Regions from separate parts of the Homo sapiens genome. Here region 2 is linked to region 1. The links come from fine-mapping of genetic effects on gene expression. Tissue or cell type: whole blood. Region 1 holds a variant in brackets; the other region holds the start of a gene. All regions are shown on one strand. Distances are between the middles of the regions.

Evidence for each region. PIP is the estimated chance that this variant, and not a neighbour inherited with it, causes the effect.
Region 2: GRHL1 starts here. The variant in region 1 is fine-mapped to the expression of GRHL1 in whole blood (INTERVAL, PIP above 0.99).

What each region holds. Positions count from the first base shown.
Region 1 is chr2:9,989,931-9,998,034 of GRCh38, reverse strand. It overlaps GRHL1 (grainyhead like transcription factor 1), which reads right to left. Exons shown (of 16, transcript NM_198182.3): 10 at 7,288-7,339; 11 at 5,889-6,028; 12 at 4,791-4,828; 13 at 2,065-2,156; 14 at 1,634-1,719. It overlaps LOC124905970 (a long non-coding RNA gene), which reads left to right. Exons shown (of 2, transcript XR_007086207.1): 2 at 1,608-5,060. Among named protein-coding and RNA genes, the nearest start is that of GRHL1, 42 kb to the right of the region's middle. The variant G/A (reference allele first, on the strand shown) is at 4,343.
Region 2 is chr2:9,947,028-9,955,131 of GRCh38, reverse strand. It overlaps GRHL1 (grainyhead like transcription factor 1), which reads right to left and starts at 3,439. Exons shown (of 16, transcript NM_198182.3): 1 at 3,279-3,439; 2 at 31-217. The coding sequence starts at 3,298. LOC105373422 (a long non-coding RNA gene) reads left to right here and starts at 4,279. Exons shown (of 3, transcript XR_922784.4): 1 at 4,279-4,427. RefSeq lists silencers at 3,149-3,688, 3,779-3,828, 3,929-3,978, 4,129-4,208.

The sequences.
Region 1 (8,104 bases):
AGCTCCAAGTTCTCACCACACAAACCCTTTTTCTTTTCTGTACGAGTGGATGATAATACTTTGTGTTCTGACATGTAAGACCTGTCATGAGTTCCTCGTGAGCCATGAACAGTTATGCTGGCCCAGTAATTCTGCATCCTCTTTACTCTCCTCTTTCCCTGTAATCAGAATTTGCATGTTTTTTGTTTGTTTGTTTTTTGTTGTTTTTTTTTTTTTGAGACGGAGTCTTGCTATGCCAGGCTGGAGTACAGTGGCGGGATCTCAGCTCACTACAACCTCCACCTCCCTGGTTCAAGTGATTCTCCTGCCTCAGCCTCCCGAGTAGCTGGGATTACAGGCGCCTGCCACCAAGCCTGGCTAATTTTTTGTATTTTTAGTAGAGACAGGGTTTCTCCATGTTGGCCAGGCTGGTCTCGAACTCCTGACCTCAGGTGATCCTCCTGCCTCTGCCTCCCAAAGTGCTGGGATTACAGGTGTGAGCCACCGCACCTGGCCAGTTTGCATGATTCTTAAGACATGATGAAGGGTCATCAAAAGGCAAGAAAAGAGAAACCCAGGGGACATCCTAGGAGGCAGGAAGTGACAGTGGGAACGGCGCTGCCTGTGCTGTGGGCAGGCAGGGATGCACTGAGTGACACCCGTGGACTTGGGGCGCCTGGCTGAGAGACCGCACAGCAGCTCCCCAAACCCACGCCCCATCTCCCTGCTTTATTAATCTTCATGGCACTCATCAGTACCTGAAAAATGACCTCAACTTCTTTGCTTATTTTGGTGTCTGTGTCTTCCTAACTACAAAATAAACTCCATTCAGCACTGTGTCACTGACGCGCATAACTCCAGTGCCCGCCACAGTGCCTGGCATGAAGCAAGCCCTTTATCAAGATGTGTTAAATGAATTCAACACACTACAGTCATCAGAGGGAGCTGGGGGAGATGCTTTTAGCCCAATTATGGACACACTTTGAGCTTAAAGATCTCTACGGTCTCTAGGAGACAGGCTGGTAAATATCTGCACTCAGTGCTGATGACATGCGTTTTTCCAGTGCACAGCTGGAACGGGAAATTAACACAGCAGCCTTCCATGTTTCCTCTCTTACTGATATCCCCACAGGGAGCATGGGGTCAGTTTATTCCAGCCTCGTGCTGAGATCCTCGTAAGATGGACTTACGGCCATCACTGGTTACACGTCTACTTTCTCTGCAATAGGCTGTAGTGAGGTCTTGATGCAAGTTCAGTAATTTCCTAGGATTGGGAGTTTTAAAGGTAGACTGAGGAGCCACTGTTTTTATGTATGAAGTTTTTAAGATTGTACTTGATTAAAAATCACTTTTGTTAGCTTCTAAGTGGCTTGCTAAATGGCAATCTCCCTTTAACCACGTATATAAAAATTAAACATTTCATAGGCCATCACAGATGCATTCACTTCAGTGGAACAGGTGTGACTGAGTGACTGTGTGAGTTAAGACCCCTGGGTGAGGATAAAATGTGGGACGCACGACGACTCGAGAAAGGTGTCAGGGATTCCAGAAGGTCTGACAAAGGATTTGGATCATCTGATAAAGTGTTTCAATGAAATCCTATGTACTTGTCCTTTCATTTTGTACAGGGGATTACAGAGTTGATCCTACTTACAGCTTCCATCAAGCCCTTCAAAGATGGGGTTTTGAGCATCAGGGCATCAAAGACTTCTTCTGACTCCTTTCGAACGTAGAGCAGCACTAATCAATCCCCAACCAGGAATAAGGAAGGGAAAAGAGAGGAAAAAAAGGATACAGTTCACATGAGCAAAAGAGGAAAACAGACCACGGTACCAGCTAAAATAAAAACCACATTCACATCAAGGATGACAAGCATCAGCCAATATCAATTCTGTCTTAAGGAACACAGGTTTCAGCTTCTCTGAACTTTGCTCTAAGTCCTAGCTCAAGCTAGATGTCAGTCTGATGGAAGAATTCCCAAGCAAGTGAAACTGGGAAAAATGTGCTTGAACCATTTATGCTTTTGATAGATTCTGAACTCACTTCTGATTTAAAACTCCCACTAAGAAATGGAAACGAACACACCTCTCTTTGGTTCTTCTATCCGGGCCAGCTTGGTAGAAGGAGGGACAGCAAAGTCATCTTCTGTGCCGTACGGCCCCCTTTTCAAGACAGAGCTGCAGTGATCCAAAATATGCCGTTAGTGATTCAACTTAACCAGCTGCATCAACATTAAGGTGTTTTAGAGCCTGTCATGGAACTAGATTTAAAATGACTTTCATTCTTTATCTGGTCCAGCTTCCTTATTTGTGGATGAAAAATCAGGCTAAAGGAAGATCCTGACTCCAGGGCTCATGGATATTTACAGGCAGACATGGGACCACACTCAGGTTCCCTGCAGGTATCTGCACTCTCATCAGATAAAGCTGCCTTCTCGAAGATGAGGCGCTTTGGTTTTTTTTTTTTTTTGTGAGACAGGGTCTCATTCTGTTGCTCAGGCTGGAGTGCAGTGGTGCAATCATGGATCACGGCTCACTGCAGCCTCAACCGCCCAGGCCCAAGCAATCCTTCCACCTCAGCCTCCCAAGTGGCGCACACCACCACACCCAACTAATTTTTTTATTTTTGTAGAGATGGGTTCTCCCTATGTTGCCCAGGATGTTCTCAAATTCCTGGGCTCAAGCGATCTTCCTACCTTGGCCTCCCAAAGTGCTGGAATTATAGGCATGATCCACCACGCCTGGCTGTCTGGTGCTTCTTTTCAGGAAACACTCTATGGAGGAGGCAGGATCTGAGATAACCTTGTACAGGCAGTGACAAAGGAGATGATGTTTCAAAACACTGAGGAAGTGTGAGCAGGAAAATGCAGGGCCAGCCTGGCTCAAACAGAATGGCCCACAGGAAGCCATATCTAGAAATTTCGGGAAGCCGACTCTACCGTGAATGTCCTGATCATTCAGCTCTAAGGAATTAAATTTTACATGGCAGAGAAGAGGGAATAGTTGAAAGGTCTGTGAGACTGAGTGTGGTACCCAAAGTGTGTTGGTACCCAAAGTGTGTGGTCAAGACTGGAGGGGACCCCAGGACCTTCAAGCAGAAAAACCAGGGGAAGGAGGCTGGTATAATCCGAGCACAGGATTCCACAGGTTTAAAATATGGTGGTATCATGGAAGCCAAAAGGTGAGAACAGACCAAGGAGAGTCTGAGGAGAGAAAAACTCAGATCGAACGAACGCCTGGCTACCAGGGGCACCTGGCATGGAGGGTCCAGCAGGTGGTGTCACGGCAAGCAAGAGAAGAGGTAGATAACTGAAAGTGAAGGGAGGGAGTGCTGGATTTGGAGCAGAATGGCCACTTCAGGAGCAGGGGCTGAGCCTCCGAGACTCTGCCACCTCAGTTCCTAACACACAGCAGCCGTCTAGTGAAAGTGCCGGCAGGACTCAAGCCTGAAACACTAAGAATCAAAGGGGCAGTGCAGGCCTCGCCTTCAAAGAGAGGCACGATGGGTAACGTGTGGGGCATGAATGTCCCCAGTATGACGGTTTAAGCCCTGGGAATGGATGGAAGATGAGGGAAGAGGGATGCTGAGGAATGAACTTCCCATGGAAATCTTGGCTCTCTCCATCAGGATGCACCTTTCTGAGGGCAGATAACAGAAAGAGGGAGGCTGAGGCGGGAGGATTGCCTGAGACCAGGATCTCTACAATAATAATAATAATAATAATAATAATAATAATAATAATAATTAGATGGGTGTGGTGGCATGTGCCTGTAGTCCCACCTACTCAGGAGTCTGAGGCAGGAGGATCACTTAAGCCCAGAAGCTCAAGGCTGCAGTGAGCTGTGACTGCACCCCTGCACTCCTACATGGGCCTCAGAGCAAGACCCTGTCTCTAAAAGTAAAATGAAATAAAAACAAAAAGAATCTTTGCCTTGTTGAAAAAGTCCCAGAGCCATCAAGAAGGTTCTGATAGCCCAAAGAGGGGTAGCGTCAGCCCCCCTCCACTAGGCAGCATGAGTAGGGGGCTGCCCGGCACAGGAAGGCAGAGCCCAATTCTGGGACAACCTGAGCATCAAAGTAAATGACTAATGAATCACAGCTTATTGAATAAAACAGGAAACTATGAGTTCATACTGATAGCAATAAATGAACGAGTAAACTGAAAGTTTGATGGGGAATGAGATATTTACAAAGCTACAATGCACCTCCCCAGACAACACTTACTATAAAAGGAGCCACTTTGCAGTGGAGAAGCTGGCAGATACCAGCTTAATCAAGTGACCAAAGAACACCATTAGTAACAGATAAACTGACATCAAGCGCCATCTGCTAGGACACACGGAGAACCCAGCCTGGCCTCTAT[G/A]ACATCCCTGCCAGGCCTGGAATCTAACCATGAGAGAGCAGCAGACACACGCAAACTAAGAAGAGTCTACAAAACAGCTGGTTGTAATCTTCAAAAATATTTGGTCAGAAAAGTTAAGGAGTGGCTTAGTTCTAGACTGAAGAAGATCAACAAACATGACAAACAACTACAATGTGTGATCCTGAACTGGATCCTTTTTTGCTATAAAGGACATTATTGGTGCTAATGAAGCAATGTTAATATTCTAATCTTGACTGTGACACAGGAGGATGTCCTTGTTGGTAGGAAATATATACCACGATATTCAGGAGTGATGGGCCATCAGGCTGGCAACTTATCCTTGATGGCTCAGGGAAAAATGAGTTCTTTGTACTGTACTTGCAGTTTTTCTACAAGTTTGAAATCATTTCCATTATTAAAACAAAACAAAACAAAACATAAATCTTACCCTTCACCCTCCAATTCTTCAGAGGCAATGGGAAGGACCTAAGACCAAAGGAATAGATTGCTTTTCAAATGTATGCTCAAAATGTTTGGCCATAAATGAATTATTCCTAAAATGGAAATAATTTTGAATTTCACCAATCTAATATAAAATCCTTTAGCCTTAGTTTTCAATAACAGATTCTTACAGATGTCTTGAACTCCTTTAACTCAGTGGTTGGGCCAAATCTGGTCTAAAGCCAGTTCATGTAAATAAAGTCTTTACTGAAACAAAGCCACGCTCATTCATTCACATGCTGCTTATGGCCATGTGTGCACTAGTTCGGCAGCACTGAGCAGCACAGTGGAGACCACGGGGCCCCAAAAGCTGAAAACCTTTACGGCCCAGCCCTTCACAAAAACAGTGTGCTAACCCCTGCTCACCTCCAGCTTCCCATTAGAAACTAAATGTACTGGCCATGGCCCCAAGAACTCTGACGAATCTTTAGTCCTTATAAATCTGTCCACAAAGTGCATGAAAGACTGTCTTTTTGATATTTATTTGCACTCAGCATAAAACCATGCTTCATTCTACTGAAGTTTCTATCCCTTGTAAGCCTTTGCCACAAAACAGGGCGTGACCATTTTTTAAAATTTAGTTTTAGTTGCCAAGACATGGCCATTGGTAACTACACGTGGCAAGGACGGCTCAGTAACTGGAACTGTGAGAAAAGCCTTCGGATGTTCTTATGTTATAAGAGCTCCTTAACCTAGGTATTGCCCCAAGTTAAGTTTAAAAAGATGACAGGCTCAAACTCCAAATTATGCTACTATTCTAGAATCTTTTAAATGAGCTAGGATATGTAGGTATGAAGAACGAACGAATGAATGAATGAATACAAACAGAATAAAGCTGACAGGCTGCACTGCACCTTGAAATCAGCGATGCTTACCATTTTTATTGCACGGGCATCATGTCACCCCAGCAGAATATTCCAAAGAGCTGACTAACTGGTCAAACCTCACTCAATTTTGGCTTCTGTTTCCCATGAATAATGCCAAAGAATTTCCTTTTGCCATGCCTTCCTTCCTGGTAACCTCCCCTGGGATCCTGGTTACCTACATGAGTGCCCCGCTGCAAGTTGGCAAAGTGCACGTCAGGAATGAAGAGGACAGGCTGAGTATCGAGATCAATGAAGGGTTTGAAAACTGTGATATCCATTCGCTTGTGAGAGGGAAGCAGTGGCACTTTAACATCAGAAACTGAAAAAAAAAAAAATTAAAAAAGAGGAAGCCAAGGTCAAAGGATTACATACAGACTGGATGCAGGCCACAGAGTGCTCGCCTCTGAGTAAGATACTCCAAGTGTAGCACTCTGTAAGATACAACAGGGCACGCTGCCTGCCTAAGAATCCCAGTTTATGTAAAGGAATTTGTTGTGTGTATTTCCACTAAAATCAACTGAATGTCTTATCAAATCAAAAGGGAAAAGGTATCTTCAAACACACACAGACGCATATCCACAGAAGATTTGCGACAGAGGCAGAGCGTATTTAGTTTTCATTGGAAAGGCTAAAATGTATAATTGTGTAAACATAATTTGGAAGAAATTTCACCTCAGCTGTCCTCATTAAATAATTTACATTCCAACACTCATGGACCCATTGACTTCAGAACATATCAAGAAACTCGACAATGAGGTGAAGTGTAAGCATGCCCATCCAATTTTTAATTTAGTAAGTTAGAGACTCCATCTTCCCCAATGATCTGGCTGGCCCTGAAGTACTCAGTAATGAGGTCTCCTAGTTAGTCAGCTGCTCTCTGAAGTGTCACTGGGAGTTTGTACTTTGATACCAGTAGGAGAATCCTGACTAAGGTGTTGCAGGGCAAATGTCTGCTGAGCCAGACAGACCATTCAAAAGAGCTGCCAGAAGCCCATGTACTACAGATGGAACCCTACAGGCACAGAACAGCACTTTCTTCATTTTAGATACAAGATTTTGTGAATATGAATACTGGTCACAATTAAAAAAAAAAGAAAACAAAGCCTTCCTGGTGAAATGTCCAAACAGAAGCCCTATAGATTCTGCAAATATTAAAATACTATACTTTAGATACAAAATATGATCTTACTTGGAGTTAAGACATCTTGAATTCTCAAGACCATTATTATTACTTTAAAAAATCTAGATAAGTCCCAATTTTAACAGTGATTCATGCAGAACGTGTTGTCATTTTTCAAGACTGGAAACAGAAGTCTGAACTAGAACTGAGAGCCAAAAACGCTGAGGTCGGGAAAACCCAGGGATCTATCCTGTAGTCCCCAGGAAAACCCCTCCCGCTGAGCTGGCATCTGCTGCTGATCTGAGGAAGAGGCAGTGCCACACTGCAGAACAGGAAGAACACCCACTGTCTTCTGCGTGCAAACTCCAGCCACCATTCTCAATGGAAAAGGTCTGAAGCTTGCCGGGAACATTTCTACTTACAGGCATTCACCTGGGAGCTGGGGTCAGGACACTTGCCTTTTCTTTTGCTTTGCTTTCGTTCTTCATCCCTGATTTTCCGCTCAGCTCCCTGTAGGTTAAGAGAAGACAAGATATGATTCTGTTTTCCAATCTTCTTTAAAATATTTAACTCTTATCCTGACCAATGGAAGAAGAAGCCTTTCTCCCTTCTCTGGACAGGAACCCCATTACTTACTATATTCATGAGGCTTATCATAGTAGTTTCTTCTAAAAAGATTAGTCTTAAAATTATTTTTAATTCTATGAAATCACAGGGAACAACATTTATTTGAAAAACAAATAAAGCAAAATTCCGGCCGGAAGCGGTAGCTCATGCCTGTAATCCCAGCACTTTGGGAGGCCGAGGTGGGTGGATCATTTGAGGTCAGGAGTTCGAGACCAGCCTGGCCAACATGGTGAAACCCCACCTCTACTAAAAATACAAAAATTAGCCAGGCGTGGTAGCGGGCACCTGTAGTCCCAGCTACTTGGGAGGCTGAGGCAGGAGAACTGCTTGAACCCCTGAGAGGTGGAGGTTGCAGTGAGCTGAGATCACACCACTGCACTCCAGCCTGGGTGACAAAGCGAAACTCTGTCTCAAAAAAAAAAAGCAAAATTTCTCCTTATAATGGATGTGGTCGTGTTAAATGAAAGCTGAGAAAATCTGTGAGTATACCACATGCCTGCAAAGACACAAGGGTATTTTCCCTTTGTCCAGTAGGAAAAGGAAATGAAAGAAAAAACCCAAGTTGGCCCTACTCTTGAGTATACTCTCCTATATGGCCAAGGTTATCACTGAAGGCTGTGATTCAGTCCAAGGGCCTGGTATCAACCA
Region 2 (8,104 bases), 43 kb after region 1:
GTTAAGGGTTTTAAAGGCAGGCAAACCCACCTTGTAGTAGTCATAGAGCAGGCCCAGCGCAGCGGCGCTGTCTTCATCTCCATTGATGCTCATCATCGCTTTGGTCGCTGCAGTGAGAGGGTTTTCCAGGAAGGATTTCCAGGCCTCATCCTCACTAGTGTAGGACCGCCGCTGTGGATAAAGTGCTTCATTCTGAAGAACCAACACTGGCCGTTTGCTTCAGAGAAATTAAAAAAAAAACAAAAACACACACTTTTCTACTGCAAGGTATCATAAGCTACCAATTCCTTGACATTCCTATAAAATAGCCTATTGTTTCATCAATGACCCTAGGAAGTCAAATTAAGACAAGACCAGAAGACAAACCACGTAAGTGCAGACCAATGGGTCCCACAGTAAGACATAAAGTATCTAGGCAGCCAGAGAACTGGCAGTTCACCTACACGTGGAACCCAGGGTATACTATTTGGCAAAAAAGCGAAACAAAACCATCCCCGAGAAAATGCCAGGCTATTCAAATACTTTCCATAAACAAACACAAGGACACAGTAAAGAAAAGAGAATACTTGTTCTCTTCCAACACACAATCAGGACTGTCCCCTCTTGAGAAGAGCGTGTGCCGTTCATCACACTGCTACATGTTATTCCCTCTTTCTACTGTGGCTGCCATGCCTTAAAAATTCCTACCTGAACACAGTGGGGAGGGGAGAAGCAGCAGAAAGAAAAAGGGATCCTTCACGCAATCCTCCAGGGTATATGAGAAAGCCAGAATATTCTACTGATTACCAGCAGATTGAGCATGGAATGTGGCCAAAGGGGACTGTAAATCAATAAAGAGGCATAATTTTCTGGCATGGGAGTTAACTGTTTATCTTAGAGATAAACACTTAAGGATATCCAACAATAAATGAAGCCACTGAACAAAAAGTTTTAAAAAAAATAGGTGGGAAAATCTGGCTTTTAAAAAATCTTTGCTAGTTTTCCACATTGCACAAGAACTGTTTCATTTTAACACTGTAGTTTGGTGGGAAAAATCCAAAAAAATCAATGGCGATCTTAGTGAAACCTTACAGAAGATTTAATTTAAAAGATTAAAGCAAACATTACTAATTCCAAAAACTTGAAATGTAAACAGTCTCAACAACTGTTCGGTTGGTACTATTTAATAAGTCAATAAAGAGAAAAAATGGAACACTGACTCTAGCAAAACAAAGCAGTTTATTTTCAAGGAGAAAAATAAATTTTAAATGTTTGGAACTCCTCTGAATTATTACAATTCTAACAAGCAAATTGAAGGACTGGCTCTCATTGCAACACACAAATGAAATATGTAAATGGCCTAAAGGTGACCTGCCTATTTTAAAAGTGAATGTAGAAAGACTGATTATCTTTTCAAGTAATCAACAAAGGTTAGCGTTTGGGAGTCACCCAGGGCCTTTAAGAACAGATACAGATTTAGAAAAAGGAGAACATCTTCAAAAAAGGGGAAAAAAATCCAACAATGTATCCTCAGTCAAAATGAAGTGTTATTTGAAAGCCAATGTTTTTACTCACGTTTTGGCATAAACGTTACATTTGGTAAGAAAGTCTTGAGGTGGTATACTATTTTAACACAAAACAAACATAAAAGACTGTTCAAAGCCAGCAGATCATTTGTCTAAAAATGGAGAAGATTGCTTACACAAATCTCAACTTTAAAGAAAATAAAGAAATATACAAAGTGGCATTCCCTGAGCCATCAGGACCAGAGTACAACAGCTACTGAACGGCTGGTGCCATGGACTGATTGACTGATGTACTGCTAAGCTATAATTAATAGCGTAATAGCTACTTCCAGAAGACTATGACAGCACTTGGCTGTTCAATTCCCTTAATGCTAGTTTTCAACTTCCCTTCTTCTCCCACCCACATCCCAAATTTGTACAAGCAATAGAAAACAGAGAAAGAAATGGCTTTATGTTTGGAATCACCCTGAAGGTGTTTCATATTTCCAAAGCCTGCCTAAGGCCAAAATGTTAGCTTTGGAAAATTTGCCTTATCTAAACTATACGTCAAGAAATAAACACAAAACCAGTTGCCTTTCTTAGTCCACTTCCTCATGACAGTCAGGAAGTAGGCTTCAGTCGCCGAAGGCTCATCATCACTTTCAGGTGAGCCTTAAACTCCGCGTCTGCGATCTCTCAGACTTCTGAAATATGTTTCAGGCAATAATTTAACTGCATATTCTACAACATAAGAGTAATCCATTTAAGATACTCCATACAAAATATCTATCTCATCCAGAAAAAGAACACACTGACAAAAACCGATCCTTCACAAATAACTAAGAAACTGGGAGGGGTACCTATCTGCCTTAAACTTCCTGATCTGAAATATACTGACTGGCCTGGTGCGATTTCCCTGTTTTTTCTTTAGTAAGTTTTTAAAATTTTTAGGACAATTTTATATTTTCAGAAAAGCTGCAAAGAAAATACAGAAAACTCCCTCGCCCAGTTAATCCCCCATGCCTTATTACACTACCACCTCACATTTGTCGAAATACGCTTTTAAATCACACACTCTAAAAAGCATATTAGCTTGTACAGTACTTTCTCGTTTAACACCCGGATTTCAAAGTTTCATCCTCTTGATTCTCTCGAGCACTAAAAACACGGTAATCTGTAATTACCATCAATGATGCAAGTGGCAAAATAACTCCTACAGCCGTTTTCCCACTCATGCCGCCAGCCAGGGAAAAGAAAACGCCCGGACATCGGGGCACTTCAACCTTTCCCTACATTTCTGTTTTGGAGGTTCCAGCAGGTCGCCGAGTGACGAGCCTGAGACCACAGATTACCTGGAGAAGTCCACCTGTCCCGACGCGGCGCGAGCCCCACCAGGCTCCCGAGGCCGACCGGGCAGGAGAGGGGGGCGGGGAGGCCCGGGGGCGTTGGCTGCGCCCCGACCTCGCGCCGCACCCGACCGCGCCGGGGGCCCGGACCCCAAGGTGCGCGCCCGAGGGGACCCAACCTGGCCGCGGAGGAGGGGAGGAGGGTGGCCCCTCCGGTGTCGAGTTTCCCCGAGGACAGGGTCTCTCCTCCCGAGGCTCCGACCGAACAAAGAGCACGGCAGGGCTAAGGGGCAAAGGCCGTGGCGGCGTGGAGTGGACAGCGGCCCCCGGCTCGCGCCCCGCGCCCGCCCGCCCGCGCGGCCTCGGGTCTGCGCCCGGCTCGCTCGCTGCAGGTGCGGCCCCTCAGCGCGGCCCCCCCGCGGCGGCCGGACTCCTGCGCCTCACTCACTTGTCGTACTCCTGTGTCATCGCGCCCGCTCGCCGCTGCCGGGCCGCAGAACTGGACTTTCGGGTTGGGACAGTACACCCGATCCGGGGGGAGGAGGCGGCGGCGGCGGCTGCGGGTCCGGAGCGGCGGCCCCGACGGGTTGGGTTTGCTTTTCTCGCTCTGAGCCGGCTCCGCGCGGGCTGCGCGCACTGGGCGCCGGGCTCGGCCGCTCATTGGCTGGCGATGCGCCGGCTGGGGGCGAGGCCTCGGGGCTGGGAGGCCGGTCGCGCCTCCTGATTGGTCGGCGAGAAGAGCGCCGGGGCGGGGCTGACGGGGACGAGCGGCGCGGGGCGGGGGGCGGGGGCCGCGCGTTCCGCGAGGTTGCGCCCGGGACTGCGCTCCCGGGGCTGCGCGCCCGACTCGCGGCCGTACGCGCCTGCCCTGACAGGAGAGGGAGCGCTGCGGCTGCGGCGCGCACCCGCCAACCTCCGCGCGCACCGAGAGCGCCCCCGCTCGCGCCCCGCCACCGCCCCCGCCGCCCCCGCCGTCCCCGCCGTCCCCGGCCATCCCCTTCGCGACGAGCCCCGGCCGTACAGCCGCCTCCTTCTTCGCTCACTCAGGCCTCCGCGCCCCGTGCCCACATTGCCCGCTGTTCCGGCCCCAGCGCCCCGCGCTGCCCCTGCGCTCGCCCGGCGGGGGCGCCTCTGCCGGTCGCCGCGCTCCCCGGTCGCGCGTCTCACCTCTCGGTTCTCGCAGGCTGTCACGCCCGAGTCCCGTGGCTTCCCCCGAGAGCCGTCTCCGGAATGTCCCTTCTCCTGGCCCACCGCGGCCGCGCGCTTTTAGGATTTCTTGCCCTCGCAGCTCCCGCGGTCCCCTCGGCGGCAGTCCCTGGGGCTCCGCGATGTCTGTGCCCCGCAGCCTCCCGGGCGCCACTTCCCCGCGCGGCCGCCCCACGCTGCCCGTGCAGTCGCGCGCCCCGGGCCGGCCCCGGGCACCACTCCACCGCGACGGCCCCCACTTGTCCTTCCCGAGCTGCCGTCTTTCCCAGGGTCCGCTCACTGAGTCCCCACATGCCCAGCGTCGGACCTGACCCTCGGACAGGCGCGGCCCCAGACGCCGGGGACAGGGCAGTCAACAGAACAGACACAACTCCTCGCCTTCCTAGTTGGGGTAACGGGCAATACAAAAACAAGTAAATGGTGTGGCTGGTTGGAAGGTAAAGCAGGCAGGCCCTGGGGAGGCGGGGAGGAGCGAGGCTTTCAGGCTTGAAGGAGATGAGGGGCCACGAAGGTGGGACTGTACCTGAGGCAGGGACCCTGGTGTGTTTTGTGACCCTTGAGGAGACCCGGGTGGCTGGTGGGGCACAGGGAGGCGGGAGCTGCGGTCAGAGATAGTGGGCGCAGGGGAGCGGATTGAGCAGGGCCTTGCCGGCTTCCGTAAGGACTGTGGCTTTCCCTCTGGGCTAGGTGGGGACGCCTTGGAGGGGCTTGGAGCAGGGTAGTGACAGGGTCTCACATTTTAAAATAGTTCTCTGCTGCTGCGTGGTGGGGACCAGGTAGGAGGCCATTGCCATGATGCAGGCCGAGGGCAATAGAGTGAGGTGGTGGGAAGTGGCCGAATTCTGGATATGCTTTGAAGGTGGGACCAGCAGGATTGTCTGAAAATTGGATATGGGGTGTGAGAGAAAGAGAGAATCAAGGATGACTACAGCGTTTCCAGCTGGGCAACTGGAGGAATGATTTGCCATCCCCTGGGATACAGAAGACCTGGGGCATAGAAGATTTGGGGGAGAACGAGAGTCTGTTTTGGACGTGCTAAGCTCAAGATGTATGGGAGATAAAAATCCATGAATCAGGTGGGCTCCTGGGTACGAGGCTGGAGTGCAAGGGAGAAGTCTGGGCTGAAGCTCACATCTGGGCGCCGCCCACGTCTAGAGGCCATTTAAAGCCATGAGAAGGCAGGAAGGAAAGAGGATGGGACCCATGCTGGATCCAGGAGCCTCCGACACAGAAAGGCTGGGAGGAAGAGCCAGTGGAGGAGACAGAAGACGGGGACACCGAGGTCGGAAGCAATGGAAGCGTGGAAGCCAAGGGAAGGAGGTGAAGTGAGGAGCAGCATGAGGTCACAGGGCCCTCCTGCAGCCAGCAGTCCCTCCTCTGTGCCCTGGTCCAAGGCCTTCAGGGACCGGAATCGGCAGCCTCACTTGAGACCGCCCTTCGCAGTTTCTGTCCTCTGACCCCGGGCCCAGCACTGGATCCATGCAGCCTGTTGTTTGTTCTTACCACTAGTTTCCTGTTTAAATCATTTATTATTTTTTTCTTTTCCTTTTTTTTTTTTTTTTTTTTTTTGAGGCGGAATCTCCCTCTGTTGCCCAGGCTGGAGTGCAGTGCCGTGATCTCAGCTTACTGCAACCTCTGCCTCCTGGGTTCAAGCGACTCTCCTGCCTCAGCCTCCCAAGTAGCTAGGATCACAGGCGCCCACCACCACGCTCGGCTAATTTTTCTATTTTTAGTAGAGATGGGGTTTCACTAAGTTGACCAGGCAGGTCTCAAACTCCTGACCTCAGGCAATCTGCCCGCCTCGGCCTCTCAAAGTGCTGGGATTACAGGCATGAGTCACCGCGCCCTGCCAAATCAATTATGTTTTCTAAGCACGCTAATTTAAGAAAAATGCTAGTCAATAACAGCACAGATGGTCCCAAATAGGGTACAAGTCATCAGGGTGGTGCCAAAGTGACTGACTTGGGAACAGTGTCCCTCTACCTGCCTTTCTTCTATTTCCTCTGACCCGGCTCCACACTGCCACTGGAGTGGCCTTTATAAAACACAGATTTCTTGTCACTCAGTTATACTCACCATAAAGTCCACACTCCTGAGCTCAGCCTCCCCTTGGCGGCCCAGCACTTCCCTTACTGCTCACTCCCAAGCACCGTCCCCGCATTCCCTGCTCCTTCCCTCCATGCTTGGCCCACTCCACTCAACTTCCAGCCTGGCTCATTTCCTCCAGGTGGCCTTCCCAACCCTCTAGGCTGGACAAGGTGTCCTGTGGGATCCACAGCGCCTTCTGCATTGCCCATCACCATGTTTGTCTTATGGGCTTTCCTGTTTGTGTCTGTCTCCACCAAGTGTGAGCTTTTCCAGAGAGGGCAGCGGTTGTACCACCTTCATTTTTATGTTCCTGGTGCCTGGTATATACATAGAAAATATCCAGCAAATGTCTACTGAATGGATGCAGTCCTCTGCAGGCATGCGTTCTGCGCCCAGTCTCCTCCCTTCTGTAGCATAGCTAGGGCTCTTTTAAATGACCCCCCCCACCGTTGCAGAAGATGAAAGTCCTTGAGCCTAATACATGGTAGGCACAAAATAAATAGGGGATGAATGAAGAAATATCCAATCATAAAGCCAAAAACAAGAACAGGAAGAGCCTGAGGTTATTAGACCATAGCTGTAGTAATTAAAAACATTGGGTCTATTTTGTCAATTTGAATATGGGATTGTTTAGTTTGTCTCTAATAGCTCTCTAAAACAGAAATGAAAATCTCTATCTATGACCTGTTGCCATGAACCCTGTTTATTTCATTTTATTTTATCTGAGACAGGGTCTCACTGTGTTACTCAGGCTGGAGTGCAGTGGCACCATCACAGCTCACCGCAGCCTTGACTTCCCAGGCTCAAGTGATTCTCCCACCTCAGCCTCCTGAGTAGCTGGGGCTACACGTGCACACCACCACACCTGGCTAGTGTGTATGTGTGTGTGTGTGTATGTTTTGTAGAGACAGGGTCTCACCATATTGCCCAGGCTGGTCTTGAACTCCTGTGCTCCAACGATCCTCCCATCCTCCCAGCCTCCCAAAGTGCTGGGATTACAGATGTGAACCACCATGCCTGGCCTACCCTCTTCATTTTTAAGTTCTTTACTATTTGTTTAAATTATTAAAGTAATATATGCACATAGTTTTTATGGAAGAAAAAATGCTGGGCGTGCTGGCTCACGCCTGTAATCCCAGAGCTTTGGGAGGCCGATGTGGGCAGATCACCTGAGGTCAGGGGTTTGAGACCAGCCTGGCCAACATGGTGAAACCCCATCTCTAACAAAAATACAAAAATTAGCCGGGCATGGTGGTGGGTATCTGTATTCCCAGCTACTCGGGAGGCTGAGGCAGGAGAATCGCTTGAACCCAGAAGGCGGAGGTTGCAGTGAGCCAAGATCGCGCCACTGCACTCCAGCCTGGGTGACAACAAGACTCCATCTCAAAAATAAAAAAAGATAGAAAGGGATTAGGAACGGGACAAAGAAAGGAGAAAGGAAGAAATTGAAGCTCTGCAGAAGGATACAGAATGCAGTCCCTGGCCTCCTCCATTCCCAGCCCCTAATCCTTGAGACAACCACTGTGAACAATTTGTGTTGATCTTTCCAGATATCTTCTGTCTGTACAAGCACTCACATGGTTTATTTTCTTAGACAAATGGGATTCGGACTGCACAATCTTCCACAGCTTGCTTGTTTTTCCTTTCTATGGTTTAAACATTTTCCACATCAGCACATAGAAATCTAGTTCACTTTAAAAAATGGCTGTATGGTGTTTCCTTGAATGGCTATATGATAACTTGAATGTATTGGTGAGCAATTAGGGTTTTTTCCCCTAGCTTTTCTTAATTACAAACATTCACAATAACACATTCCTCTAACTACATTTTTGCACACTTGATCAGGTATTGCCATAGGATAAATTCCTAGAATCGGAGTTACTGAGAAAAGGGAATGCACAGCTGCCATTTGGTTTTTTGTTTGTTTGTTTTTTGAGATGGAGTTTGGCTCTTGTTGCCCAGGCTGGAATGCAGTGATGC